Linked DNA regions of Homo sapiens. The protein of the gene in region 3 interacts with the protein of the main gene of each other region in a pairwise test. Each region holds a gene or a part of one and is shown on either strand. Other genes may lie near its edges.

What was found.
Region 1: the proteins of CCDC138 (region 3) and KRT27 interact in binary tests that used the Homo sapiens proteins (3 or more experiments, as listed by UniProt).
Region 2: the proteins of CCDC138 (region 3) and FAM161B interact in binary tests that used the Homo sapiens proteins (3 or more experiments, as listed by UniProt).
Region 4: the proteins of CCDC138 (region 3) and CEP57 interact in binary tests that used the Homo sapiens proteins (3 or more experiments, as listed by UniProt).

What each region holds. Positions count from the first base shown.
Region 1 is NC_000017.11:40,774,654-40,779,550, forward strand, and holds the end of KRT27 (keratin, type I cytoskeletal 27), read right to left. Parts: coding exon 4,849-4,897; intron 3,080-4,848; coding exon 2,862-3,079; intron 2,650-2,861; coding exon 2,600-2,649; intron 2,486-2,599; coding exon 2,346-2,485; 3' UTR 2,155-2,345; downstream 1-2,154.
Region 2 is NC_000014.9:73,932,268-73,940,921, reverse strand, and holds the end of FAM161B (protein FAM161B), read left to right. Parts: intron 1-2,809; coding exon 2,810-2,974; intron 2,975-3,220; coding exon 3,221-3,320; intron 3,321-4,833; coding exon 4,834-4,973; intron 4,974-6,527; coding exon 6,528-6,666; 3' UTR 6,667-8,443; coding exon of another isoform or gene 8,444-8,489; 3' UTR 8,490-8,646; downstream 8,647-8,654.
Region 3 is NC_000002.12:108,810,093-108,818,746, forward strand, and holds part of CCDC138 (coiled-coil domain-containing protein 138), read left to right. Parts: intron 1-2,538; coding exon 2,539-2,616; intron 2,617-2,727; coding exon 2,728-2,835; intron 2,836-5,848; coding exon 5,849-6,013; intron 6,014-8,654.
Region 4 is NC_000011.10:95,806,660-95,815,313, forward strand, and holds part of CEP57 (centrosomal protein of 57 kDa), read left to right. Parts: intron 1-6,272; coding exon 6,273-6,452; intron 6,453-6,808; coding exon 6,809-6,930; intron 6,931-8,654. UniProt on the Homo sapiens protein: Centrosomal protein which may be required for microtubule attachment to centrosomes. May act by forming ring-like structures around microtubules. Mediates nuclear translocation and mitogenic activity of the internalized growth factor FGF2, but that of FGF1.

The DNA.
Region 1 (4,897 bases), on a different chromosome or scaffold from region 3:
GATGTCTCTGCTAATCTCAGACCGACTGGAGTGAGCATGCACGTAGTTTCTTTATCCCTTCTCTTGTTATAGGGAAGGTGGAGTCATAAAGTTCTCACTAGCATGGTATTATGTCGTGGTGAAGCACCAGACTCTGAGCTATTCTGTGTGGTTTACGTATTTCAGCACTTCATGTTATTACTGTGTGATCTTGGGCAAATTATTCAACCAGTCTCTGCCTCCGTTTCCTTATCTGTAAAACGAGGACGATAACAGTACCTACCTCATAGGGTTGTTGTGAGGAATAAATGATGCTTAGAACAGAGTCTAGCACCTAGTAAGTGCTGGTTATCAACTATTATTGACTCTTTCCTGGAAGTCATATTTAAAGGTTTTAAATATTGGCCTGGTTTTAGCAGAAAGAATTTATTTCCTGAGTTATGGTGAGTTGGTGGTCAGGCGTTTCAAATACTGTGAAATCTGAGCTAAGTATTCGGTGGCTCACGCCTGTAATCCCAGCACTTTGGGAGGCCGAGGCAGGTGGATCACGAGGTCAGGAAATCGAGACCATCCTGGCTAACACGGTGAAACCCCGTCTCTACTGAAAATACAAAAAAATTAGACGGGCGTGATGGCAGGCGCCTGTAGTCCCAGCTACTCGGGAGGCTGAGGCAGGAGAATGGCTTGAACCCAGGAGGCGGAGCTTGCAGTGAGCCAAGATGGCGCCACTGCACTCCAGCCTGGGCGACAGAGCGAGACTGTCTCAAAAAAAAAAAAAAAAAAAAAAATTAAAGACTTTTTAGTATTACCGTTTACTCTTAGTGTTGTATATTCTACGGGTTTGGAAAATGTATAATGACACGTATCCGTTCTTATGATATTATCCAGAGTATTTTCACAGCCTTAAAAATCCTCTGTGTTCTGCCTGTGCATCCCTCACCTCCAATTTCTGGCAGCCAATTATCTTTTTACTATCTCCATAGTTTCGCCTTGTACAGAATGTCATATAGTTGGGGTCATACAGTATGTAGCCTTTTCAGATTGGCTTCTTTCACTTAGTAATATACATTTAAGGTTCCTCTGTGTCTTTTCATGGCTTGATAGCTCATAGCTTTTTAGCACTAAATAATATTTTGTTGTCTAGAGGTACCACAGTTATTTATCCATTCGTCAACCAAGAGGACATCTTGGTTGCTTCCAAGTTTTGGCAATTACGAATAAAGCTGTTATAAACATCTGTGCACAGGTTTTTGCGTGAATGTAACTTTTCAACTCTTACGTGGTAGGATGTTTCCTTTTCCTAATTTTGATATGAGGGTATATGATGTGAGGACTGGTTAATTAAAAAGTTAAGTGAGAGGGTATCTGCCTTACATTCGCTTAGGTATTATTACATGCGTGTGGGAAAAAGAGGAGGAAAGACAGCTTGAAAGTGACTGTGTTTCAACTGTGCTGAGCCAATTCTACAGAGTTCAGTAATAGGACACTGGTTCCAGAGAAAAACAGGCTGTTTCTGTTACGGGATTGGTGAGGGGGAGCCAAATCTCTCACCCACAAATAAACCTCTGGAGGGTTTTCTGCTGAGTTTAACCTCCTCCCACTCCCAGCCTTGAAATAGATTCATTAATGGTAGGTGCTGAAATTATTGCACTAAAAGTTACCTTTGACTTGAGAGCCACATGGCTCTGCAGTCTTGGATGGCAAAAACGAAGGAGAGAACTTGTGAATTCCTACCGTTATGGTGGAGTGATCAAGATTATGAATTAGATGCCTGCTGGAATTCTCCTCTTACCCTTGTCCTCACAGCTCTCTTTTTCCCCTTCTACCTTCAAATATCACTACTTATAGCCTTTCCTTTATGTTTAAGTTTGTTTCTGATTCTTCAGGTTCTTATTTCTACATCTATGAGCATATTGACTTCAGGGACTGGATCTTATTAACTGTTTTATCCTCGTTATCTGGCACATAGCGTGTTCTCAGTAAGTACTTTTCGTACTGAGACAAAGGAGACAAAATTTTACAGAGAAGTCAAAAAGACTCCAACTAGTTTTCACATTAAACTTACTTCCAACTTGTGAAGACTGTTGAATTAAACAGAAGAAATTAAAGACAAAATTCAGCTTCCATTTGGGAGGGTATATCTAAAATGCAAAGATTGGCCAGAACCAGGGAAGATGACTTGCAACAGGAAGAACTTTTATTGAAACACCACCATAGAGAAAAAGCCAAAGAAATGGTACTATTCTAAAAATAACTTGTCTTAATTCATTGGAAGAAAAGCAGAAAAATAAGGGGACCCTTATTTAGGAAACTAGCTTCATTTTGGTATTTTAATTTGGGGGCCATTCTGTCTCAGAGGCTGGAGTTCAGGAAGACACCCTCTGTTCATTCTTGTTGTTGACTTTGGTGGATTTCTCTTCCACAGTGTGAACTCTGGATGAGAGAACTTTGCCACGAGGATCTATCTCTTCAACAACTGTTTTGACAATGGTGGTTTTAGATGAATCTAAAATGCCACATATAAACTGTTTAGAATTTATCAAATTCATAAATAGGAAATAAAACATCATTTGAAACACATACAAATAAACACTGAATGCCTAACACAGCTTTTGTTTACCTTTTGTTTGATTTCCTGGGCCTCCATAGCCTTTTGATTTAGAACAGGAGCTGTAAAAGTATAGAGCGCTTATATTAATTATTCTGTTTTACTGAGGAAACTGAAAAATAATGATTTAAGGTGGGAATTCACTGCATTCTGAAATAACACTAAAAGAGTATTATCTATGCGTGATCTAGATCATAGATATTTTGTACTTGATTTCAAATCATCTTTAGTAACCTTAAAAATGAATTGTTTTCTCAATGGCGGCAATACTGACCCATCTTCTCCATCTATCAGGAGGCAGTAGGTCTCAATTTCTTTTTCCAGGTGGACCTTGATGTCAAGGAGCTGCTCATACTCGAGCTTCTGGCCCTCGGTCTCGGTTCTGACCTGGTGCAGCTGCTCCTCCAGGGCCCCGATCTGAGCCTGGATCTGTGCCAGCTGTGCACAGTAGTTACTCTCGGTCTCTGTCAAGGAGCACTCCAGGGAGTGTTTCTGTAGTTTGGTAAGACATGGTTTAATAGAAAAGGTCACGGTGTTTTAGAATAAGCCAAAGCATTTAAGAGATAATTAAGAGAATTATCCTTACATCATGCAAATAATTATATTTACCCAAAAGATTCCACTTCTTCAATATTAATTGTTGCCTTTATTAAATGTCCTACTACTTTTCTATTTGAGAATGACACAGCTGGTGCTGAATGTCCCTCAGATGCCCAGGTGTGCTAAAAAAGATGAAATTGTCTCTTCATAGGGCACAGACTGAAAGATCCCTCCCCTGCACCAATATAGCCTGTGCTTGTAGAGTGTGGCACAATTTGCTACTTTACCCACAACTAGAAGTCCGCCTATACTTTGCTACTCATTTCTAGCCATGTGACAGTCTTGTCTTATGAGGATTGTAGCTCTTCTATTAAAAAGTCATCCTGCAGTAAACCGCATAAACGTTCCATGAGTAGAATAAACCACAGAAAATAATTACCTTCTTAGACTTTAAATACAGTAGTTCAATTCATTGGCTTGTGAATCTGAATGGGTTTACAGATATACTCAGAGGGAACACTCACTGCAATTTTACATGGAATGAAGATGAGAGTGTCTTATCCTTTCACCTGCAAGTATTTTTTATATAAAGTCTTGATTTTATATACATTCATAGCCTCATCTGTGGATAAACTCTGGTGGTTTACTAGCCATAGTGGGAAAAGTATAGACTTGGGAGTTAGAAAATTTGGAGAGAACTTCTGGATTCCTTCATACCCAACTGTGGGACTGTGGGAATTGCTTAACTTCTTCGAATCTCAGAGTCCTCTTTTGGAAATAATGACATGAGTTATAACGTCTGCCCTGCCCATGCCCCGGGGTTGTTGTGGACTCACATGTGGGCGGAAGTGCTGGGCAAACCCTTAATGAAAGCAGTTATGATTATCATTACACATGTTTAGTTTTATAGTCAGCCTTCATGCCTCGACTTTTCCTCTGTCTATGCCACTTACAAAGGAACTTGTAAGTGCTCTTAATTGAGTGGCCAAAAGGAATGCTAGATGAAGCTAGGAGTGGTGCAAATGTATTTTTGCTCTCTTTAAGCAGTAGGATTTTTTTTCTTTTTTTTTAAATGGACACATAAGAATTGTATATATTTATGGGGTTCCATAATTATATTTCAAAACACACAATGTGTAGTGATAGAATCAGGGCAGTTAGCATATCCATGGTCCCAAACATTTATCTTTTTTGTGTGTGTTGGGAACATTCAAAATCCTCTCCTTGAACTATTAGAAATTATAGAATAAATTATTCTTAACTGTAGTCATTCTACAGTACTATAGAACACTTGAACTGATTCTCCCTATTTCTCTGTAATTTTGTATCCTTTAACCAACCTCTTCCTATCCCCCCATCCCCTTCCCAGGCTCTAGTAAGCACTTATCCCACTCTCTACTTCTGAGATCAACTTTTTTAGCCTCCACATATGAGTGGTTTTTGATATTTTGACTTATGATAGAAGATTCAAAGTCAAAACGATTTTCTTTTTCCAGTATCTTGACTGTATTTGCTAATTTCTAATATTTCATAATTATTGGCATCCAGCTATACTTTGTAGGCAAAGAGGATTGTCATGTGCAAAATGCAAATATGTCTTATGTCAAGCACTGTAATTAATGGTTAAAAACTAAAATATGTAATTATGTTGGAAGAAAATTCTCTTCGATTATTTTTTTCTCAATTTCTAAAGCAAATCTGTTTTGTAACTTTTCGCTTACCGTTGCTAAGAGGGACTGAAGTTCAATCTCAAGGGTTTGAAGAGTGCGT
Region 2 (8,654 bases), on a different chromosome or scaffold from region 3:
GTGGTCAGGCTGCACGAGACCCATGCTCTGATTCTGGCCCCAAATGCTGGAAACCTCCCTGCCAAGGGGCCTCCTTTCCTGTTATCAGAGATACCTCAAGGGGTCAAAGGGAATTTTCTGATCAGGACTGGAACAATTGCGGTTCTCCACACCTGGTGCTTGGAGAACAGCTAGCCATCATTCAGCACATATTCATAGTGGGCTTATTCTGTGCCAGGCACAGTGTTAAGGCTGGAGATCTTAGGGAACCTCCAGTTTATTATCTAGTCTGAAATACAGAAAAGCAAAGAAGCAATGGCCATATTTTTTGAGTAGTGCAATGATGGGGGGTAAAGGGGACTGTGAGGGCACTGGGCAGCCTGGAGCAGGGGGGTCTTGTCTTGTGGAATAGATGTCTAAAGTGAAACTGAAGAACAAGGAAGAGTTCGCCAGACAAAGCCTGGAGAGAAGGAAGGTTCCAGACAGAGAGAACATGGATAAAAGCCCATGGGTGAGAGGAAGGGAGTAGTGAGGAACAAGAATTCAGAGAAGCATGCTAGCAGGTGGCTGAAGTTGCCGCAAATATGAGACATCCATTGCATAGATTTGAGATTCTCTGAGATTCATCTTGGGAAGATGTCAGAGTCTGTTGGGCAGCAAGAGCCTGCTTATTTTTAACTCTTCAACTGACCTGATTCTGTTATGATGTTCTCATTAAGCCAGCCCCCAGCAAGGGTTCTTCCACCAGGCTTCTGAGCTGAAGTAGGCAAGAGAGGTCATGGTGTAACAGCAGCTTAGGCCAGGGAGAGGACTAATGTCTTACTGCCTTCCCATGGGGCATGTAGGGGAGTACTCAGAACCTACTTGGATCGTTAAGCCCCACAGCAGGGATTGTAGAAGAGTATTTACGGTCCAAGGGATACTCCTTTCTTCTTCAGACTTCAGTTAGACCTACTAAATCAGGGCTAATTAATTGCTCAGTATCCTGAGGGCCCAAGAACACAGGCCTCCTGAACAAAGAGGCTGGCCTTCCTATAGAGGACATCCACATCTGCTTTCCAGCCACAGGGAATCTGACATATTAACAGATTAAATTTTCATGTCCTTCTTCCCAGTATGTCCATTTGAATATAAACATCCAAATATAAGAGTCTTGGTTGATTTTCCTTTTGGAAGAACTCAACATATTACTTTGTAGATAACTGAACAAACTAAGTGCTACAAGTTGAACCCAAATAGTCTGCACTGAGGGAGGCTCATTTCCAGTTCTCTCTGAATGTGCAGATTTGTATTCCCAAAGGACCATGAACCCAGACACCTTCCAGCCCACTGTTTCCAGCAGAGTGGTCAAGGCCAGAGGCTTCGGAGTCAGAGGTCCTGGTCCAATAGGGGCTTTTCCACTGGCATGCTGGGTAGCTTTGAGCAAGGGGCTTACCTCCTTTGAGCCTCAATCACCTCCCCTATAAAAAGGGAATTTAGTATTTACCTCATAAGGCAGTTATGAGGACAATGTGAAATGTAATGGTACTTGGTTCATAATAAGGAGCTCAGTAAATGGTAGCTATTAGTATTATTTTGTATCCAGATAGGCGAAGACCTATTGAATGTTGGACTGTTTAAGTAAGGATATATATATTTTTTTTCGAGACAGAGTCTTGCTCTGTCGCCCATGCTGGAGTGCAATGGCGCAATCTCAGCTCACTGCAACCTCTGCCTCCCGGGTTTAGTGATTCTCCTGCCTCAGCCTCCCAAGTAGCTGGGATTACCGGCACGTGCCACTACACCCAGCTAATTTTTTTTGTAGTTTTGGTAGAGACAGGGTTTCACCATGTTGACCAGGCTGGTCTCGAACTCCTGACCTTGTGATCAGCCCGCCTCAGCCTCCCAAAGTGCTGAGATTACAGCCATGAGCCACCGTGCCCGACCTAAGTAAGGATATTTTAACTGACGTTTCTCCAGTTCAGTAAATGCACTTCTAGGGTAGGAACTCACTGTGTCCCTAGTGCTGGAAAGGCTTCATCTGCCAGTGCATTTAATCCTAGAATTTTATTATTTTTAAAAATGGCAGTTGAGGTAAATTACATGCCCCATTCATTAAAAACACCAACTTACTTTCCAGAAAAGGTTACTAAGATTGCTTTATTTTATTTATTTATTTATTATTATTTTTTGAGACGGAGTCTCTCACTGTCGCCCAGGCTGGAGTGCAGTGGCACGATCTCGGCTCACTGCAAGCTCCGCCTCCCAGGTTCATGCCATTCTCCTGCCTCAGCCTCCCGAGTAGCTGGGACTACAGGCGCCCACCACCGCACCCGGCTAATTTTTTGTATTTTTAGTAGAGATGGGGTTTCACAGTGTTAGCCAGGATAGTCTCGATCTCCTGACCTTGTGATCCGCCCGCCTCGGCCTCCCAAAGTGCTGGGATTACAGGCATGAGCCACCATGCCCGGCTATTTTATTTTATTTTATTATTATTATTATTTTTGAGACGGAATTTGATCTGTCGCCCAGGCTGGAGTGCAGCAGTGCGATCTTGGCTTATTGCAACCTCTGCCTCCCGGGTTCAAGCGATTCTCTTGCCTCAGCCTCCCGAGTAGTTGGGATTACAGGTGCACACCACCATGCCCAGCTAATTTTTGTATTTTTAGTAGAGCTGGGGTTTCACCGTATTGGCCAGGCTGGTCTTGGACTCCTGACCTCAGGTGATCCACCTGCCTTGGCCTCCCAAAGTGCTAGGACTACAAGTGTGAGCCACCACACCTGGCCTAAGATTGCTTTTCAGTATACCCAGGTTGGTAATCTATACTCTTTTTCTGCCTCCTTCCTTTAGAAGTGCACTTGAAAAAAAGAACAAAGCAGATGAGAGTATTCAGTGGCTGGAGATACACAAAAAGAAGTCTCAAGCAATGTCCAAATCTGTGACCTTGCGTGCAAAAGCCATGGATCCCCATAAAAGCCTGGAGGAAGTGTTCAAAGCAAAGCTGAAAGAGAACCGGTCAGTGTCCTCTATGTGTCAAAAGGGGTGCTTGCCTTGGGATCCAACAGACCACTGGCCTATTGCCAGAAAATGCAAAATAGAGTTATCGAGGTAGGTAGGCTCCTGTAATCACAGCAGGGTCATGATTTTCCAAGTCAGATAGGAATTTACAGTGTACACGAGAGTTACACTGCTTTACTGGAAATGAAGGGTATTCTGGATTAGAAAAGATGAAATTCTTTCTAAAAGTCTTGCTAATTCCAGGAACAATGACCGTAAAAGAGCGAAAGAATATAAGAAAGAACTGGAGGAAATGAAGCAGCGAATACAAACAAGGCCCTATCTCTTTGAACAAGTTGCCAAGGTAAAACTAAACCATCATTTGTTTTCTTTCTGCCTTAGATAAAAGGACTCTGAAAAATTACAAAACAATTTTAATATGTGGGTATTAAAATTTTCCTTGAGGCCCAGAAATTCTAATTTCACTACTACCTTCTTTTCCCAAAATAAATAGTACAATAGAGAATGCTGCTTGTGTTGATTTCATCCAAGAGTGGACTCCAAAGGCATCGATAAAGGGATATTTCACTTCCTAGAGCTTTCACTGTAGTCTACCATTCAGATTTCATCAGACTGGGCATTAGACCCCAGAGACACAGGGACCATTTGGCTCTTTCTATGCTCTGGAGCCACTGTTCACAGTGCTGGAAAGGTATCTCTCCTCTGGCAGTGCTGCTGGCCCTGGGCCTCCCCAGCCTCTAGAGCTGTGGTATATTTATAGGTCTCCAAGCATTAGGATGCCCACAAACACCCTGCAAGGCTTTCTCTAGACTAAGTGGCTTTCAGGCTGGAAGCCTGAAATTTTTTTTTCTTCTTTTATTTTGTATGCATGTGTATGTGTGTGTGAGTGTGTGTTCCTTATGGAGCAGGGCTAACCCATAGGCAGTGTACCCGAAGTATCCTGGAAGAGTATCATTTTAAGATATTCTCTGTAGACTTTTAGGGATGTTGGACTCAGCTGAGATCTCCGTAAGGATGTAAGGATGCTCTGTTTCTACTGCATTAGGCTCTGTGGATCTCTTTCCTCTCCAGTTTCAGACAAGTTGGGGTTCCATAGTGACCTAGTTCCAATGGCAGGGCATTAGCTCCATCTTATAGTTAGTACATTGTCTAGGCATTTGCTGGCTCCACTTCCTCCTCCCTCCATAAATCTTTCTCCTCTCACACACATAAGCACACATGGTCTTGGATTTACTTAGCAACCTGCATTGTTCAAAATCTCATGCTTCTTTATGTTAATGTTAAGCAAGCTCACTCTTCAGATCTCAACAGATCTTTCACCTCTCTAGGAAAAATACAAAGTACTCTATGATTTTGTTCTTGAATACTTAAACAAAAAATAATATTCTGCTGGTCCACATGCAGACCATCTGTCCTTCCACTAAGAGTCTTGGTGTAGCTTATTTTCTATTTTATTTTAGTGTTCCTGATAATGGTTTGTTGCTTTAAAATCTTAGGTTTTTAGTCCATCCTTTTAAATCTGGGTCTCATTTGTCTCCCAAAAGTCTAAGTCATTGCTTTTCAAAATTGTGACTCCCAAATCAACAGTTTGGCATCTCTGGGGAGTGTTAGAAATACAGAATTACAGTCCTCATCTGACACCTACCAAATGTGAAATCTGCATTTTAACAAGACCTCAGGTGATTTATATACACATTAAGGCTGGAAAACAAGGGTTAAATAATTTTCTTGCAAATCTATGCCCCACAATAAGGGTGGTGGTGGTTGTGGCAGTATTGTAACAATACTGATTAAGTAATTTAGAATTGTCTGGTAATTCATAAGACAGCTACAACAGATTAATTTCCATCCCACAGGATCTAGCCAAGAAAGAAGCAGAACAGTGGTATCTAGACACCCTGAAGCAGGCTGGGCTGGAGGAAGACTTTGTGAGAAACAAGGGTCAAGGCACCCGGGCTGTTCAAGAGAAAGAGACCAAAATCAAGGATTTTCCCAGGTAACCTGAAATGTTGCTGTCATTCTGCAGCTCTCTAAATTGTCATACCCAGTAATACCACTGGGAGGAAACTTTAGAATAGCCACTGGTATTTTGAGATCATAATCCTGTATTTATGTAACATTAATAAGTAATCCAGAGATCTCCAAGTAACACATTTGAATTTAGAGAGTGATGCAGTTGTGAATAAAATCTGACAAATTATGTTTCGTTTTCTTCCATTTTGAAACAGATCATTTTCCAATTCCAGTTCCAATTTCATGAGCTGAAACTATTTCTACTTTATTTTTGAAGAAAAATCATGTATATTTTGACTTCTTATAAAACTATAAAACTGTTTTTCTAGCATTCCTTAAAGGTAGCTCATTAGTATCACCTTCTCCATAACCTTTTTTTTTTTATTTTTTGTATTTTTTTTTTGAGACAGAGTCTCACTCTGTTGCCCAGGCTGGAGTGCAGTGGCGCGATTTCTGGCTCACTGCAAGCTCCGCCTCCTGGGTTCACGCCATTCTCCTGCCTCAGCCTCCCGAGTAGCTGGGATTACAGGCTCCCGCCATCACGCCTGGCTAATTTTTGTGTATTTTTAGTAGAGACGGGGTTTCACCATGTTAGCCAGGATGGTCTCGATCTCCTCACCTCGTGATCTACCCTCCTCAGCCTCCCAAAGTGCTGGGATTACAGGCGTGAGTGACCGCGCCCGGCCCTCCATAACCCATTTTGATATTGAGTCAAAGGGAGAAAATAGTATCTTCTCTCCATTATTCTCAATTGTTTTGTATCTTAAATCCTAGCAGCCCCTACCCTAATTCCTATCTCAGTTTTATACCCCTAGAAATTTTCCTTTACATCCCATATAAAATAGTAATAATGTTGAGACTTTTTTTTTTGAGACGGAGTCTTGCTCCGTCGCCAGGTTGGAGTGCAGTGGCGCAGTCTTGGCTCACTGCAGTCTCTGCTCACTGCAGTCTCCGCTTCCCGGGTTCAAGCGATTCTCCTGCTTCAGCCTCCTGAGTAGGTGGGACTACAGGTGTCCACTACCACGCCCAGCTATTTTTTGTATTTTTAGTAGAGATGGGGTTTCACCATGTTGGCCAGGATGGTCTTGATCTCTTGACCTCGTGATTCACCTGCCATGGCCTCCCAAAGTGCTGGGAGAGACCGTTCTTAAACCTTACACAGTGCTTTAAGACTTTCTTTTTTCAGACTGGGCACGGTGGCTCACGCCTGTAATCCCAGCACTTTGAGAGGCTGACGTGGGTGGATCGCTTGAGCCCAGGAGTTTGAGACCAGCCTGGGCAACATGGCAAAACCCTGTCTCTACAAAAAGTTAAAAAAAAAAAAAAAATTAGCTGGGTGCAGTGGCACGTGCCTATAATCCCAGCTACTTGGGAAGCTAAGGTGGGAGGATTGCTTGAGGTGGGAGGGTTGCTTCAGCTGGGCTGTCCAGGCTGCAGTGAGCTGAGATCATGCCACTGCACTCCAGCCTGGGTGAGAGTGAGACCCTGTCTGAAAAAAAAATTTTTTTTGTTTTTCATGTTTTAATTTATTCTGCAGGTTCCAAGAAACTACAAAACTCAGCATCAGAGATCCAGAGCAGGGTTTAGAAGGATCTCTAGAACAGCCTGCAAGCCCCAGGAAAGTACTGGAGGAGCTGTCTCATCAGTCACCAGAAAATCTCGTATCACTTGCTTAATCACTACACTTAAAATTACTGCTTTTGAAAAATATTAAGCAGCTAACTTGGGTTTGAGTCAAGGCAGGGAAAACTTGGGTTTTGAGTCATGGCTACTGTTAGAGGATGGACAAATGAAGAGTAGCAGATTAACAGGCCAGGCGCAGTGGCTCACGCCTGTAATCCCAACACTTTGGGAGGCTGAGGCAGGCAGATCATCTGAGGTCAGGAGTTTGAGACCAGTCCAGCCAACACGGCAAAACTCCACCTCTACTAAAAATACAAAAATTAGCTGGGCGTGATGACACGTGCCTGTAATCCTAGCTACTTGGGAAGCTGAGGCAGGAGAATCACTTGAACCCAAGAGGCAGAGGTTGTAATGAGCTGAGATCACTCCACAGCACTCCAGCCTGGGCAGCAGAGCAAAACTCTGTCTGAGAAAAAAAAAGAGCAGCAGATAACAGAGAATAGTTCAAGGAAATCAAAGTGGGGAGGCTCAGGTGGAGGGATGGTAGCCTAAAGTTAAGGGTTCCTGCTTTGTGCCTCACACTTAGAGAATTAGGTACAGAAAAGAGAGCACAGGCCCAAATGCCTATAAGGGGCTAGTGCAGAAACATAAATGCGTCCATGGAGTGGGTGTAGACAGTAGGAGATAGTAGACACTGGAAAGTATCAAATCCTGCTGGAATATAGGCTCAGAGTTACTACATCAACTACATTTTCATCAAGCCAGAAATTTGTATGCTATCAACTAATTTAAAAATTACTTAGAAATATTGTATGGGCAAAATAAAATACATCTGCATATCAGATCTAGCCCATGGGGGATGAAAAACTTACAACTTCTAGTACAGGATTTCTTATCCTCAGTGCTATTAATATTTTGGGCCACCTAATTCTTTGTTGAGGGTTGGGGAAGGGAACTGTCCTGTACATTGTAGAATGTTTAGTAGCATCCCTGGCCACTACCTGCTAGATGCCAGTAGTACCCCTCTCCCCAGCTGTGACAACCAAAAATGTCTCCAGATATTGCATATCCCCAGGGGGCAAAAATGTGCCTGGCTGAGAACCACTGCTCTAATATAAATGGCTGCATGAAGCAAAAACTGGCATTCTAAGAATACAAGTAATTGCCATGAACACAGTCTATGTACTATGTGATTATGCATGTCATTAACAAATTAAGAATTTAAAACAATTCTCTCCCGTTATCTGTTTAGAATGTGCCTGTGTGTTTATGTGAGCATGAGGTTCATTTTAAGTAAACTTAAAATTTCCCAGACAACCAAGATTTTCTACTAGTAGGTGAACTTTGGAATAATTTTCTTCTCACCAATAATAATTGGATATTCTGGCTCGGTGCAGTGGTTCATGCTTGTAATCCCAGCACTTTGAGGGGCCAAGGCAGGAGGATCGCTTGAAGCCAGGCGTTCAAGACCAGCCTGGGCAACACAGACCTCATTTCTACCAAAAAAACCACAAAAAGTTAGCTGGACTGGTGGTACATGCCTATAGTCCTAGCTATTCAGGAGGCTGAGGTGGGAGGATGCCTTGAGCGTAGGAGTTCAAGGTTACATTGAGCTATGATTACACTACTGCACTCCAGCCTGGGTGACAGAGCAAGACCCCATCTCAAATCATAATGATGATGAGTGGATATTTTCTCAGTAGCTGTGGAGACAGGATGACTGATAGCAAGAGTGCCTGCTCTAACTAAAGCACCTTTCTCAAGCTTTTTTAAAAAAACTATCTTTGTGGAAAAATTCAGAAGTATCTGTTTTTATTGCCATTTTCTCAGATGCGTCTTTTTTGGTGGTGACAGAGTAACTATCACCTGGGCTTAAGAAATGAAGATGTTCTTGTTGTTTCCTAAGACTCCTCGGTTCAGTTTTACTGGTATGGAATCCTAAGGGTAAATCAATACACTATTTTAAAGGGAAAGATTAAATTCTTAATCTCTAAGAAAACAAATTTTGTATAAAACAAGAGCCAAAGAACTGACTGGGCTG
Region 3 (8,654 bases):
ACCACACCCAGCCTGTTATTTCCAATTTGGATGTCTTTTATTTCTTTTTCTTGCTTAATTACTCTGGCTAGTACTTCTAGTACCATGTTCAACAAGAGTGGTGAGAATGAGCATCCTTGTCTTGTTCTAGTTCTTAGAGGAAAAATTTTCAGCTTTTCCCTGTTCAGTATGATGTTAATTGTGTGTTTGTTATATATAGCTTTTAATGTGTTGAAGTACATTCCTTCTGTACCTAATTTTTTGAGAGTTTTTACTGTGAAGAGATGTTGTTGAATTTTATCAAATACTTTTTCTGTGTCTATTGAAATGATCGTAAGGTAATTATATTTCATTCTGTTATACTCTTCATTCTGTTAAAACGTGATTATCACATTTTTTTATTTGCATATTTGAGCCTTCCTGTGTCCCTGGGATAAATCTCACTTGGTTATGGTATATTATCTTTTTGGTGTGTTGTTGAATTTGGTTTGCTAATATTTTGTTGAGGATTTTTGCATCTATGTTCATCAGGAATATTGGCCTGGAGTTTTCTTGTTGTGTCTTGGTTTGGTTTTGGTATCATGGTAGTGCTGGCTTTGTACAATGAGTTTGGAAGAATTCTCTACCCTTCAGTTTTTTGGGATAGTTTGAGAATTGGTATTTGTTCTTTAAAAGTTTTAATTCAGCAGTGAAGTCATTGAGTGAATTTAAAAGTACAGTTCAGCAGTGAAGCCATTTAGTTCGGGCTTTTCTTTGTTGGGAAACTTTTTACTACAATTCAATCTTGTTACTTATGATTGGTCTGTTCTAGTTTTCTGTTTCTTCTTGGTTCAGTCTTACGTTATATGTGCCTAGGAGTTTATCCATTTCCTCTAGGTTTTCCGGTTTGTTGGCATATAGTTGTTTCATAATGATCTCTGTAGTCTCTAGTGATCCTTGTATTTCTGTGGTACTGCTTGTAATGTCTCCCTTTTTGTTTCCGATTTTTCCGATTTTATCTGTTTGGGTCTTTTCTCCTTTTTTCTTTTCTTTTTTTTTTTCTTTTTTCTTTCCTTCTTCCCTTCTTCCCCTCCCTCTGCCTTCCCTACCCCCCTAACCCTGCCTTCCTTTTCTGTTTCCTTCCCTTCCTTCCCTTGCTACTATTTCTTCTCTCCCTTTTCTTTCTTTCTCTCTCTCTTTTTTTTTTTTTTTGACTGTCTCCCTCTGTCTCCCAGGTTGAAGTGCAGTGGCATGACCACGGCTTACTACATGTAGCCTTAACCTCCAGGGCTTAAACCACGCTTCTGCTTCAGCCTCCTTAGTAGCTGGGACTGCAGGCATGCACCACCACCTCTAGTTAATTTTTTAATTTTGTTGTAGAGATGAGGTCTTATTGTGTTGCTGAGGCTGGTCTTGAACTGGGCTCAAGTGATCCTCCTGCCTCACCCTCCCAAAGTGCTGGGATTACAGGTGTGAGCTACTGCACTCAGCCTCTTCTTTTTTCTTAGTCTAGCTCATGGTTTGTTGGTTTTTTTATTTTTTCAAAAAGCCACTTTTCATTTTTTAAGAAAATTATTTTAGATTCAGAGGGTACATGTGCAGCTTTGTTACATGGATATATTGTGTAACAGTGAGGTCTGGGCTTCTAAAATGTACTCTTCACTCAAATAGTGAACATTGTACCCAGTAGGTTAATTTTCAACCCCTACCCCTCTCCCCTCTTCCCTTTTGTAGTCCCTAGTATCTGTTATTTCCATCTTTATGTCCATATGTGTGTACCCATTGTTTATCTTTGACTTATAAATGAGAACATACAGTATTTAATTTTCTGTTTCTAAGTTATTTCACTTAGGATTAATGACCTCCAGCTCCATCCATGTTGCTGCAGAAGACATGATTTCATTCTTTACTATGGCCACATAGTATTCTATTCATGGTGTATATATATCACAAATTTTATTGTAAGATACCATAAGTAATATAATAAAAAAATAATTGGATACCCAGGAATAAATCTAAAGAGAGATGTGCAAGACATCTCTACTTGAAAACTACAAAACATTATTAAAAGAAAATAAAACCTAAATAAATTGAAGATATGTTCATGGATAGGAAGACTCAATATTCTTCCTTTCCATATATAGGAAGTCAGTTCTTCCATATATATATACATATCAGTATATACACAGACACATATACACATAGTCCCAGTAATGCAATCCCAGTTATAGCTCATTGTACTGCATACTTAGGATTTTATACTTTTCTTTATATGTGTTATAGTTCAGATAACAGTGTACTTATTAATAAAAACATTTTCACTAAAATATATGTATATGCTTTTAAGACATCTGGAGTCTTGTACATTTTTCATAAAATGAAGTAAATGATCTTACAAACCATTAATATTTTAGGGAAAAACGACAACTTCAGTTGTGATCTAAGTTAATCATGAATGCTGTCTCTGTTTTGTTACATTGGTTAGTAATATCAACCAGATTAGATAGTAGATTGGGAAACCCTTAGTATGAAACCAGTTGAAGGTGTATATTGAAATATCTAACTTTTTCTACCCTTTAGTTAAATGAAGCAAGTGAAGAAAACAGGAAGATAGACATTCAGGCTAAAAGAGTTCAAGCTCGTTTAGATAATTTACAGGTAAGTTGCCTGTTCTTCTCTACAGACAGAAGTATGTTTTTAGATGATTACCTTTGAGTTTACTCATTTAGATACAATTGTTCTTTAATTCACGCATATATACTGTTGCAGAGGAAGTACGAGTTTATGACAATACAGAGATTGAAAGGAAGTTCCCATGCTGTTCATGAAATGAAAAGTTTAAAACAAGAAAAAGCACCAGTTTCAAAAACTTACAAGGTAAGTTTGAATTATGATTTGATATGATTGAAAATTTCTCGGCTGGGTACGGTGGCTCACACCTGTAATCCCAGCACTTTGGGAGGCTGAGATGGGCGGATCACGATGTCAGGAGATCGAGACCATCCTGGCCAACATGGTGAAACCCCGTTTCTACTAAAAATACAGAAAATTAGCCAGGCATGGTGGCACACGCCTGTAGTCCCAGCTACTCGAGAGGCTGAGGCAGGAGAATTGCTGGAACCTGGGAGGCGGAGGTTGCAGTGAGCCGAGATTGCACCACTGCACTCCAGCCTGGGCGACAGAGTGAGACTCCGTCTCAAAAAAAAAAAAAAAAAAAAAAAAGAAAATTTCTCCAATGGAAAGCCAGGAAGATTTCTCTTGTGCTTTAATCTTTTCTCTTTGATTTAGCAAACATTCTTTTTGGAATGTTTGCTATGGAAGGGATTCACCATAATAATTTTTTAATAGGGAAATATCTCAAGAATATTTAAAATATACTTTCATTTGTGAAAACAAAACTATTATATTTCAGCAGTGTTTCAGGTACGTATCATTGACACATCATTAATGGCTTTATTGCTTAGTATGTTTTGACACTCCACAAGCATTTGCTATTATATTTCAGTCAAGACTACAACCCATCCCTGAATGGATTTCCATATGTCTTTTTTTCCCTAAGAATTTTTAAAATTTGAGATATAAATTACATATGGTAACATAATGCAGAAATCCTTTAGTGTAAAGTTTGATTAATTTTGATAAATATTTCATGTTGTCTATAACCAAATACAGAATACTTCCACTATCCTAGAATATAGAACTTTCCACTATCCTAGAAAGTTCTCTAATACCCTTTCCTGGTCATTCTTTTCTGCCAGAAGTTTTGCAGAAATTAGTTTTGCCTGTTTGAGACATTTGGTCAGTGGAATTGTATTGTGTGTACTTGTTTGTGTAAGGCTTTTCTCAGCATAATTATGAGTGTATCAGTAGTTTGTTCCTTACTATTGCTCAATAGTATTTCATTGTATGACTGTATCAGAGTTTGTTCCTTCATTCTTCTGTTGATAGACACCTGGGCTTTTTCTAGTTTTTGTCTGCAATAAATAAAGCTGCTACGAATATTGGTGTACAGAGTTTTTATGGATGTATGTTTTCATTTCTTTTGGATATATACCAGGACTACAATTTCTGGGTCATAAGGTCGATAAAGGTAGATGTATGTTTTTAAGAAACTGACAGTTTTCCAAATTGGTTGTACTGTTTTGTGTACAAATGGGAGTGTAATGATACACTCCCATTAACAGTGTATCAAAGTTTTGGTTGCTCCACAACCTTGTCAACATTTGGTGTTTTCAGTTTTCTTCATTTTGACCCTTCCAGTGGGTGTGTAGTAGTATCTTATTATGGGCTTTGATCATTTTGATATTTTGATAAATTTTCTAGTTCTTTATAAATTGAGAAAATTGGAGTAAATTGAAAAGGTACAGACTTTATATTCAGGGACTGAAGATAATCGAAGTTTTCATCTAAAGGGAGTTAGTTTCTATTTGAAAAAAATTGAGAAAGTGAAAAATTGCTCTTCAGAATAATGTGGTAATGCTACTATTTATCATTTTGTCTTTAGTCATTCTGATTGTGTGGATTGCCATCGGCTTAATGTTGCCTATTTATTAATTTGCTTTTATATTTCTCTGTCTTTGAATTTTTTTGTTTTTTTATTTTTTAATTTATTAATATTTTTAATTTTTTTTTTTTTGAGATGGGGTCTCACTCTGTCACCCAGGCTGGAGTGCAGTGGTGCAACCTTTGCCTTCTGGGTTCAAGCCTCCCGAAGAGATGGGATTACAGGCGCCCACCACCACGCCTGGCTAATTTTTATATTTTTAGTAGAGACAGCGTTTCACCATGTTGGCTAGGCTGGTTTCAATCTCCTGACCTCTGGTGATCCACCTGCCTCTGCCTCCCAAAGTGCTGGGATTATAGGCATGAGCCACCACATCTGGCCTGCAGATTTTTAAAAAAATAAATTTAACATAGTTCCCTCCTTAAGGTGGATATGTGTAGTGGTATCTTATTAAAAAAAATTGAATTAAATTAGAAATGTGTTTTGTAATAATACTTAGTCTAATTAAATTTATAAATTACTTTGTTATTTTACTTTTCATTTTGGTAGGCTGTCAGAGGACAAGATTTCTAGGAAAAAAATGTTCATATGTGTATTGAATGATATACTGGAAAGACAAAGTAACAATTTTTGTGAGAAGAGAAAGATAAGTTTCATAGTGGAAATTCTTTAGCTCTGGAAACCATTAATTTTTTTTAGAGTCTTTTAATTGTGGTGATTCATGCTCTTAAGTTAAGGCTAATTTTACTTTTTTTCCATCTTATCAAACTTGGATAAAGAATTTTTATGAAAAGTTTTCTTTTAGTAATAAGGTACAGTTATTCCAACTTCCTGATTATGACTTTTCTTGCCTTCTCTCAGTTGTCATTTAACATGTTTTTAATATTAGTTGGGGAGGTTTTTGGTGTTTTTTTTTTTTTTTTTTTTTTTGAGATGGAGTCTTGCTCTTTTGCCCAGATTGGTGTGCAGTGGTGCGATCTCGGCTCACTGCAGCCTCCACCTCCTGGTTCAGGTGATTCTCCTCCCTCAGCCTTCCGAGTAGCTGGGATTACAGGCATGCACCACCATGCCCAGCTAATTTTATTTTTAGTAAAGACAGGTTTTGCCATGTTGGACAGGCTGGTCTCGAACTCCTAGGGAACTTCAGGTGATCCACCCACCTCAGCCTCCCAAAGTGGTGGGATTACAGGCTTGAGCCACTGCGCCAGGCAGGTTGGGGAGGTTTGATTTGGAATTCTTTTGTTTGTTTGGAGAAGCTCTGTCCTTAACACATTTTAGTGAATTACTTTAGTCAAATTATTCTTATTACTTAACAAATTTAAGGTTTGTCTTTGAAGTTTTATGAAGTTGTGAACTGAAATAAATGATTTAATTTTTGACATATAGGTACCACTTAATGGGCAAGTTTATGAACTTTTAACTGTCTTCATGGACTGGATTTCGGATCATCATCTTAGCAAAGTGAAACATGAAGAATCTGGAATGGATGGTAAAAAACCACAACTCAAATTTGCTTCCCAGAGAAATGATATTCAGGAGAAGTGTGTAAAGGTTTGTTTTTTAATTTGAAATATGTGATTCAGAATATATGAAGATTAAAAAAGGAAAAGCCAGGGCCAGGCACAGTGGCTCACGTCTATAATCCCATCACTTTGGGAGTTCGAGCTGGGCAGATCACCTGAGGTCAGGAGTTTAAGACCAGCCTGGGCAACGTGGTGCAACCCCGTCTCTACTAAAAATACAAAAAATAGGTGGGCATTTTGGCACGTGCCTGTAATCTCAGCTACTTGGGAGGCTGAGGCAGGAGAAACGCTTGAATCTGGGAGGTGGAGGTTGCAGTGAGCCAAGATTGCAGCACTGCACTCCAGCCTGGGCAACAGAGCAAGACTCTGTTTCAAAAGAAAAAAACAAAAAACAAATTTGAGGGGCTGCCTCTGATGAGGCCCTTCTTCCTGGTCTCCTGCAGAGTCCAGAGGTGATGCAGGGTATCACATGGCTGGGGGCTGAGTGTGCTAGCTGAGGTCTGTCTCCCTTTTATAAAGCCACCAGTCCAGTTCCCATGATAATCCATTAATCCATGAACCCTTGGATGAATTAATGCTTTCATGAGGGCATCCCTCATAACCCAGTCACCTCTTTTTTAAAAAGCTTTTGTGTTAGAGATGGGGTCTCCTTGTGTCACCTAGGCTGGAGTGCAGTGGCCCAGTCATTGCTTACTGCAGCCTCCAAACTCCTAGCCTCAAGTAGTCTTCCTGCCTCATCCCTTTGAGTAGGGTCTACAGGTATACACCACCTTGCCAGCTAATTTTTAAAAAAAATTTTTGTAGAGATCAGACCTGGCTTCATTGCACAGAATGATCTTGAACTCTTAGCTTCAAGCATTCCTCCTGCCTTGGCCTCCCAAAGTGTTGTCATTACAGATGTGGGCCACTGTGCCCAGACCCAGTCACTTCTTAAAGGCCCCACTTATCAATACTGTCATATTGGGAATTAAGTTTCAACATGACTTTTGGAGGAAACAAACGTTCAAACCATAGCACATGGCAAAAGGGAATTAAAGTTGTTAATCAGCTGACCTTAAAATAGGGAGGTTATCCAGGATTATGTGGGTGGTCCTGGTAATCACACAAACTTTTTAAACCAGAAGGATTCAGAAGAGTAGGTCAGAGACTCAACCCCCTCTTGCTGGCTTTTGAAGATGGAGAAAGAGGGCCATGAGACATGGAATTCAGATAATCTTTTTTCTTTTTTTTTTTTGAGGCGGAGTTTTGCTCTGTTGCCAGGCTGGAGTGCAGTGGTGCCATCTTGGCTCACTGCAGCCTCCACCTCCCGGGTTCAAGTGATTCTCCTGCCTCAGTCTCCCAAGTAGCTGAGACTACAGGTGTGTGCCACCACGCCCAGCTAATTTTTGTATTTTTAGTAGAGACGGGGTTGCACTGTGTTGGCCAGGATAGTCTTGATCTCTCGACCTCGTGATCCACCTGCCTCGGCCTCCCAAAGTGCTGGGATTACAGGCATGAGCCACCGTGCCCAGCCATCAGATATCTTCTGGAAGCTGGGAATTGCCCTCAGCTGACAGTCACAAAGGACATACAAATCTCAGTGCTCTAACTGCAGCAAACTGGATTCCACATGCAACTTGAATAAGCAAGGAAATGGATCCTCCCTTAGCCTCCAGAAAGGAACACAGCTCTGTATATACATTGATTTTGGCTGGCTGAGACCCATTTTAGACTTCTGAACCTACAGAAGTGTAAAATAATGAATTTGTGTTGTTTAAATGTTAAGTTTGTGGTATTTGTTACGGCAGCAATAGGACACAAATACACCTTTGTTTAGAATTTTGTCTCTTAGTACCTACATCAATTATTTCCCTAAATCTAGCCTTATTTTAGAAGTAACTGCCAATTAGGAAGGCCTGCCGTATTAAAGTTCTGCAGAGAAATTTTATTTGTTAGAACTAGATGAGGGCTGGGCACGGTGGCTCATACCTGTAATCCTTGCACTTCGGGAGGTTGAAGTGGGAGGATTGCTTGAGCCTAGGGGTTTGAGATCAGCTTTGGCAACATGGTGACACCCCATCTCTACAAAAAATACAAAAGTTAGCCAGGCCTGGTGGCACGCGCCTATAACCCCAGTTCCCTGGGAGGCTGAGGTGGTAGGATCACCTGAACCTGGGGGGGTCGAGGCTGCAGTGAGCCGTGATTGTACCACTGTACTCCAGCCTGGGCAACAGAGTGAGACCCTGTCTGAAGAAAAATAATGGAATCGGGATCATGTAATACTGTGTTTTTATATTAGTCTAATAACACAAGAGAATAATATTTAGCACGTGTATTTCTCAGGATTCATTTTAACATCTGTAAATAAAAAGTTGTCTGTTGACATGTTCAGGATTTACAGTTTCTATTAAGCCTAGATCCTTTCAGTTAAAATATTGTTTTCAACTTAATTACTATATAATAATAAAGGTAGAACAATTTTAAGGTGTATAAATAAGCTTTTAAATATAATAATAGAAGAGTAAGTAGTACCAGATTAACTAATTAAATACTTGTGGCCATCGCAAGCAGGTATTCACATCTCTTTAGGAAGATGTAAAATTTGTAATTTTAAATAATGTAACCTTATCTTAAAATCTTTTTTTTGTTATCGGACTCTGTTAACCACTTGGGCAAGCATTTTATTTATT
Region 4 (8,654 bases), on a different chromosome or scaffold from region 3:
AGCGAGGCTGGGGGAGGGGCATCCGCAATTGCTGAAGCTTGAGTAGGTAAACAGCGGTCTGGAAGCTCAAACTGGGTGGAGCCCACCGCAGCTCAAAGAGGCCTGCCTGCCTCTGTAGACTAACCTCTCCGGGTAGGCCATAGCTGAACAAAAGGCAGCAGAAACTTCTGCAGACTTAAACATTCCTGTCTGACAGCTTTGAAGAGAGCAGTGGTTTTCCCAGCACGGAGTTTGAGATCTGAGAACGGACAGACTGCCTCTTCAAGTGGATCCCTGACCCCCAAGTAGCCTAACTGGGAGATACCTCCCAGTAGGGGCCGACTGACACCTCATACAGCCGGGTCCCCTTCTGAGACTAAGGCTCCAGAGGAAGGACCAGGCAGCAACGTTTGCCATTCTGCAATATTTGCTTTTCTGCAGCTTCCGTTGGTGATACCCAGGCAAACGGTCTGGAATGGACCTCCAGCAATCTCCAACAGACCTGCAGCTGAGGGTCCTGACTGTTAGAAGGAAAACTAACAAAAAGGACATCCACACCAAAACCCCATCTGCATGTCACCATCATCAGACCAAAGGTAGATAAAACGACAAAGATGTGGAGAAACCAAAGCAGAAAAGCTGAAAATTCCAAAAATCAGAGCACCTCTTCTCCTCCAAAGGAACACAGCTCCTTGCCAGCAACAGAACAAAGCTTGATGGAGAATGACTTTGACGAGTTGAGAGAAGAAGGCTTCAAACGATCGGTGATAACAAACTTCTCTGAGCTAAAGGAAGATATTTGAACCCATTGCAAAGAAGCTAAAAACCTTGAAAAAAGATTAGACGAATGGCTAACTAGAATAAACAGCGTAGAGAAGACCTTAAATGACCTGATGGAGCTGAAAACCATGCCATGAGAACTACATGACGCATGCACAAGACTCAGTAGCCGATTCAATCAAGTGGAAGAAAGGGTATCTGTGATTGAAGATCAAATGAATGAAATGAAGCGAGAAGAGAAGTTTAGAGAAAAAAGAGTAAAAAGAAATGAACAAAGCCTCCAAGAAATATGGGACTATGAGAAAAGACCAAGTCTGCCTCTGATTGGTGTACCTGAAAGTGACGGGGAGAATGGAACCAAGTTGGAAAACACTCTTCAGGATATTATCCAGGACAACTTCCCCAATCTAGGAAGGCAGGCCAACATTCAAATTCAGGAAATACAGATAATGCCACAAAGATACTCCTCAAGGAGAGCAACTCCAAGACACATAATTGTCAGATTCACCAAAGTTAAAATGAAGGAAAAAATATTAAGGGCAGCCAGAGAGAAAGGTCAGGTTACCTGCAAAGGGAAGCCCATCAGACTAACAGCAGATCTCTCGGCAGAAACTACAAGCCAGAAGAGAGTGGGGGCCAATATTCAACATTCTTAAAGAAAAGAATTTTCAACCCAGAATTTCATATCCAGCCAAACTAAGCTTTGTAAGTGAAGGAGAAATAAAATCCTTTACAGACAAGCAAATGCTGAGAGATTTTGTTACCACCAGGCCTGCCTTACAAGATCTCCTGAAGGAACAACTAAACATGGAAAGGAACAACCGGTACCAGCCACTGCAAAAACATGCCAAATTGTAAAGACCATCGAGACTAGGAAGAAACTGCATCAACTAACGAGCAAAATAACCAGCTAACATCATAATGATAGGATCAAATTCACACATAACAATATTAACCTTAAATGTAAACAGGCTAAATGCTCCAATTAAAAGACACAGACTGGCAAATTGGATACCAAGAGTCAAGACCCATCAGTGTGCTGTATTCAGTAGACCCACCTCACATGCTGGGGCACACATAGGCTCAAAATAAAAGGATGGAGGAAGATCTACCAAGCAAATGGAAAACAAAAAAAGGCAGGGGTTGCAATCCTAGTCTCTGATAAAACGGACTAGATCAAAAGAGACAAAGAAGGCCATTACATAATGGTAAAGGGATCAATTCAACAAGAAGAGCTAACCTAAATATATATGCGCCCAATACAGGAGCACCCAGATTCATAAAGCAAGTCCATAGAGACCTGCAAAGAGACTCAGACTCCCACACAATAATAATGGGAGACTTTAACACCCCACTGTCAACATTAGACAGATCAGCGAGACAGAAAGTTAACAAGGATATCCAGGAATTGAACTTGGTTCTGCACCGAGCGAACCTAATAGACATCTACAGAACTCTCCACCCCAAATCAATAGAATATACATTCTTCTCAGCACCACATCACACTTATTCCAAAACTGACCACATAGTTGGAAGTAAAGCACTCCTCAGCAAATGTAAAAGAACAAATTATAACAGACTGTCTCTCAGACCACAGTGCAATCAAACTAGAACTCAGGATTAAGAAACTCACTCAAAACCACTCAACTACATGGAAAGTGAACAACCTGCTCCTGAATGACTACTGGGTGAATAATGAAATGAAGGCAGAAATAAAGATGTTCTTTGAAACCAACGAGAACAAAGACACAACATACCAGATTCTTTGGGACACATTCAAAGCAGTGTGTAGAGGGAAATTTATAGCACTAAATGCCCACAAGAGAAAGCAGGAAAGATCTAAAATTGACACCCTAACATCACAATTAAAAGAACTAGAAAAGCAAGAGCAAACACATTCAAAAGCTAGCAGAAGGCAAGAAATAACTAAGATCAGAGCAGAACTGAAGGAGATAGAGACACAAAAAACCCTTCAAAAAATCAGTGAATCCAGGAGCTGGTTTTTTGAAAAGATCAAAATTGATAGACCACTAGCAAGACTAATAAAGAAGTAAAGCGAGAAGAATCAAATAGATGCAATAAAAAATGATAAAGGAGATATCACTACCAATCCCACAGAAATACAGACTACCATCAGCGAATACTATAAACATCTCTACGCAAATAAACTAGAAAATCTAGAAGAAATGGGTAAATTACTGGACACATACACCCTCCCAAGACAAAACCAGGAAGAAGTTGAATCCCTGAATAGACCAATAGCAGGCTCTGAAATTGAGGCAATAATTAATAGCCTGCCAACCAAAAAAAGTCCAGGACCAGACGGATTCACAGCCAAATTCTACCAGAGGCACAAAGAGGAGCTGGTACCATTCCTTCTGAAACAATTCCAATCAATGGAAAAAGAGGTAATCCTCCCAAACTCATTTTATGAAGCCAGCATCATCCTGATACCAAAGCCTGGCAGAGACACAACAGAAAAAGAGAATTTTACACCGATATCCCTGATGATCATTGATGCAAAAATCCTCAATAAAATACTGGCAAACCGAATCCAGCAGCACATCAAAAAGCTTATCCACCAAGATCAAGTTGGCTTCATCTCTGGGATGCAAGGCTGGTTCAACGTACACAAATCAGTAAACGTAATTCATCATATAAACAGAACCAAAGACAGAAACCACATGATTATCTCAGTAGATGCAGAAAAGGCCTTCAACAAAATTCAGCAGCCCTTCATGCTAAAAACTCTCAATAAACTAGGTATTGATGGGACGTATCTCAAAACAATATGAGTGATTTGTGACAAACCCACAGCCAATATCATACTGAATGAGCAAGAACTGGAAGCATTCCCTTTGAAAACTGGCACAAGACAGGGATGCCGTCTCTCACCATTCCTATTGAACATAGTGTTGGAACTTCTGGCCAGGGCAATCAGGCAGGAGAAAGAAATAAAGGGTATTCAGTTAGGAAAAGAGGAAGTCAAATTGTCCCTGTTTGCAGATTACATGGTTGTATATTTAGAAAACCCTATCGTCTCAGCCCAAAATCTCCTCAAGTTGATAAGCAACTTCAGCAAAGTCTCAGGATACAAAATCAATGTGCAAAAATCACAAGCATTCTTATACACCAATAACAGACACACAGCCAAATCATGAGTGAACTCTCATTCACAATTGCTTCAAAGACAATAAAATCCCTAGGAATCCAACTTACAAGGGATGTGAAGGACCCCTTCAAGGAGAACTACAAACCACTGCTCAATGAAATAAAAGAGGATACAAACAAATGGAAGAACATTCCATACTCATGGATAGGAAGAATCAATATCGTGGAAATAGCCATACTGCCCAAGGTAATTTATAGATTCAATGCCATCCCCATCAAGCTACCACTGACTTTCGTCACAGAATTGGAAAAAACTACTTTAAAGTTCATACAGCACCAAAAAAAACAGCCCACATTACCAAGACAATCCTGAGCCATTAAAGTGATCATTAAAAAGTCAGGAAACAACAGATGCTTGAGAGGATGTGGAGAAATAGGAATACTTTTACACTGTTGGTGGGATCGTAAACTAGTTCAACCATTGTGGAAGACTGTGGCGATTCCTCAAGTATCTAGAACTAGAAATACCATTTGACCCAGCCATCCCATTACTGGGCATATACCCAAAGGATTATAAATCATGCTGCTATAAAGACACATACACATGTATGTTTATTGCGGCACGGTTCACAATAGCAAAGACTTGGAACCAGCCTAAATGTCCATCAAGACTGGATTAAGAAAATGTGGCACATATACACCATGGAATACTATGCAGCTGTAAAAAAGATTGAGTTCATGTCCTTTGTAGGGACATGGATGAAGCTGGAAACCATCATTCTGAACAAACTATTGCAAGGACAGAAAACCAGACACCACATGTTCTCACTCATAGGTGGGAATTGAACAATGAGAACACTTGGACACAGGGTGGGGAACATCACACACCGGGGCCTGTCGTGGGTTGGGGGGAGGGGGGAGGGATAGCATTAGAAGATATACCTAATGTAAATGATGAGTTAATGGGTGCAGCACAGCAACATGGCACATGTATACATATGTAACAAACCTGCACGTTGAGCACATGTACCCTAGAGCTTAAAGTATAATTAAAAAAAAAAAAAACGTGATGGGAAAGAATTAGGTATACCTCTGTGAAAAATCAAAACATCTGTACATCAAAACTAGAATTAAAGGCAGATAATAAAATGAAGAAAACTTTTTCCCATAGAAAAATGGGCAAAGGAAATTCATGAAAGGGAGAAAATTAGCCAATAACATATATGAAAAGATTTATACTTTGATGGAAATGGAAAATAACTAGGAGTAGCATATTTTTCTCATTAGAATGGCTATGATTCTTCTTTGACCCAGTAACTTTTTAGTTTTTAATTATTGATCATTAGAAAATCTTTTAAGACTGATTGCCTGAGGGAATTCTCACTATTTAATAATGCTAAAGTGAAAAAACCTACATATTTGTTTTGTCTCAATTTATTTTACACATATAGGAAAAAATTTAAATAACCAAATGACAGTCATTATCTTTGGGTAATAGGATTATTGGTTATTTTTCAGTGTGTTTTTTCTCAGTCTTCTACATTTACTGCAGTCAACATAATTTTATAATCAAACTTGAAGCGGACTTTAGAAAGTACTTAAAATGCGGATTTTAAAAGTATTATTTTTGTGTGCTTGACTGTAACTCTATAGTTGGTTTCTACATGTGCTCCTATTAATAAAATGTATTAATAAGTAATAGTTACTAATACATTTACTAATTTTAATTAATAAGTAATATATTAATAAGACAGTAATGTACTTTAGGACTGTTATGTGAACTTTGTATGATTGGCTAAATTTTTTACCACTTTATAAAAGTCTTTGAAATTTTTTTACCATAGTAATGGGGTTTTTACTTGAGCACATTTCAAACACTCAATGTCTTTTTTTTAATTTATTATTATTTTTTGTGAGACAGAATCTCACTGTCGCCCAGGCTGGAGTGCAATGGTGCGATCTCAGCTCACTGCAACCTCCACCCCTCCACACTCCCCACCCCACCCGGGTTCAAGCGATTCTCCTGCCTCAGCCTCCCGAGTAGCTGGGATTACAGGCGCCCGCCACTATGCCTGCCTAATTTTTTTTATTTTTAGTAGTGACAGGGTTTCACTGTGTTAGGCTGGTCTCGAACTCCTAACCTCAGGTGATCCACCCACCTCAGCCTCCCAAAGTGCTGGGATTACAGGTGTGAGCCACCGCACCCGGCCCACTCAATGTCTTTAAATTGATTTTTTAAAAAACAAATATGAGATAATTAACATTTTATTGTTCCCAAAGAGTGATCCTCCACTGGACTCATCCATCAATTTTATTTTTTATTTAGATGAGTTTATTCTTTCTTAATATACTTTCTCCGCATATGCTGTTACAGCATCCACGTTTGTGTTTGTATTTGGCAGCCATATTTTCTGCTCTTAAGAATCTTCAAGATAAGATTCGACGCTTGGAACTTGAGAGGATTCAGGCAGAAGAAAGTGTGAAAACCTTGTCTAGAGAAACAATTGAATATAAGAAAGTACTGGATGAACAGATACAAGAAAGGGAGAATTCAAAGAATGAGGAATCAAAGCACAATCAAGGTTTGTTGATGAAGAAAATTAAAATTCTATCAAAATAAGTGTTGTGCAGTATTAAGTATTCTAAAAGAAATAGTACATTAGTGTTTTGTAGCGGTATCTTCAAGTACTACAAAACTGCATTGTATTCTGGTGCATTTTGAGGAGCAAATGCTGTTGTCATACATGGCATTTATTTACTGAATGCAAGGCCAGTTTGACTAGCACGTAGAAAGAATGATTTAGGTAATCTGAAAAGGCGTCCAGGTCTGTGGAAGGTGTTTTTATTGTATACACAATAGATCCAATTCCTGTTAACAGCTTGTTAAAACTATTTTATGGGTGAGTTGATTTCTGCTTTTCTTATGTATTCTTTTTAGAACTGACATCTCAGTTGTTAGCTGCAGAAAATAAATGCAATCTATTAGAAAAACAATTGGAATACATGCGAAATATGATAAAGCATGCCGAAATGGAGAGGACATCTGTCTTAGAGAAACAAGTAAGTAAAGCACCTCACAGATTGATACTCAAGAACAGTTATGGGGAAAACTAATTGAATAAAGACTTTTTTTCTTTCGGTGAGGATTAATGGTGCTGTTACAGCCCAGGACTGAAATTTCTTGGCATCAGTTATGAAATCTAAATATGTGATTGGCTTTTTCTTGTTGTTATTGTTGTGTTTCGTAGAGTTTTACTTAAATGGTAAAAATACAGTTGTGAGATGTTTGAAAGTTATGTTAGCTTCTTTGAGTCTACATTATAAAAAGTGTAAATAACCATATACCTCTGTATCTCTGAAATTTGTTTAATGACTCCAGTGAGATAGTAGATGACTTTGTAAAACTCTTCAGAATTGTTACTTAGCATAGCATTTTTGTGCTTTCTTACACCAGAGATCTTCGTATTTAGGTGACCTGTACATTTGTGAGAAGATATCTCAACATCAGTCTCAAATATATTGATTGATCAATTGATTGGATCTCACTCTGTCTCACTCTGTCACCCAGGCTGGAGTGTAGTGGCATGATCTCGGTTCACTGCAACCTCTACCTCCTAGGCTCAGGTGATTCTCATGCCTCATCCTCCCGAGTAGCTGGGATTACAGGCGCATGCCACGATGCCCAGCTAACTTTTGTGTGTGTGTGTATTTTTAGTATAGATGTGGCCAGGCTGGTCTCAAACTCCTGGCCTCAAGTGATCAGGCCGCCTCGGCCTCCCAAAGTTCTGGGATTACGGGCATGAGCCACTGTCCCTGGCCTTGTGTGTATTTTTTTTTTTTTTTTTTTTGAGACGGAGTTTCCCTTTTATTGCCCAGGCTGGAGAGCAACGGCGTGATCTCAGCTCACCGCAACCTCCACCTCCCGGGTTCAAGTGATTCTCCTGCCTCAGCCTCCCAAGTAGCTGGGATTACAGGCATGTGCCACCACACCCGGCTAATTTTGTATTTTTAGTAGAGACAGGGTTTCACCATGTTGGTCAGGCTGGTCTTGAACTGCCAACCTCATGTGATCCGCCTGCCTTGGCCTCCCAGAGTGCTGGAATTACAGGCATGAGCCACCACGCCCGGCCAGCCTTGTGTATATTTTTTTAAAACTTACTCCTTTTTCTGTTATGAATCTAGAGTTTGCATTCATTAGTTTTGTAGACATCTTAACTCTATTATAAAATCGGATTGTTTATATGCTTAACATTATGCTAGATGCCCTGCAATGGAAAAAAAAAATACTAGGCAGTTGTCCTTCAGTATCCATGAGTGAATTGGTTCTCAGACCCCTGTGGATAGTAAAATCCATGGATGCTCAAGTCTCCTATAAAATGGTGTGGTATTTGCGTATAACCTACACCCAATCTCATATACTATAAATTATCTCTAGATTACTTATAACACCTAATGCAATGTAAATGTTATGTAAATAGTTGCTGTACTATATTGTTTGGAGAATAATGTCAAGAGTAAGAATCTGTGTATGTTTAGTACAGATTCAACCATCCTTTTTTGTTTTTTCTCGTATATTTTCAATCCACAGTTGATCAAATCCATGGATGCAAAACACACAGATACAGAGGGCTTACCGTGTATGCTTTCTACCCTCAGTCAGCTTTCAGTTCTCATTGGAGAGAATTAGACTTAAATATTTGAGCAATCATACAACAGTATTTGAGAAGATGTCTCAGTAATTAATTCTTGTGTGTGATAGGTCTCTTATTTCAGTGGTTATAATT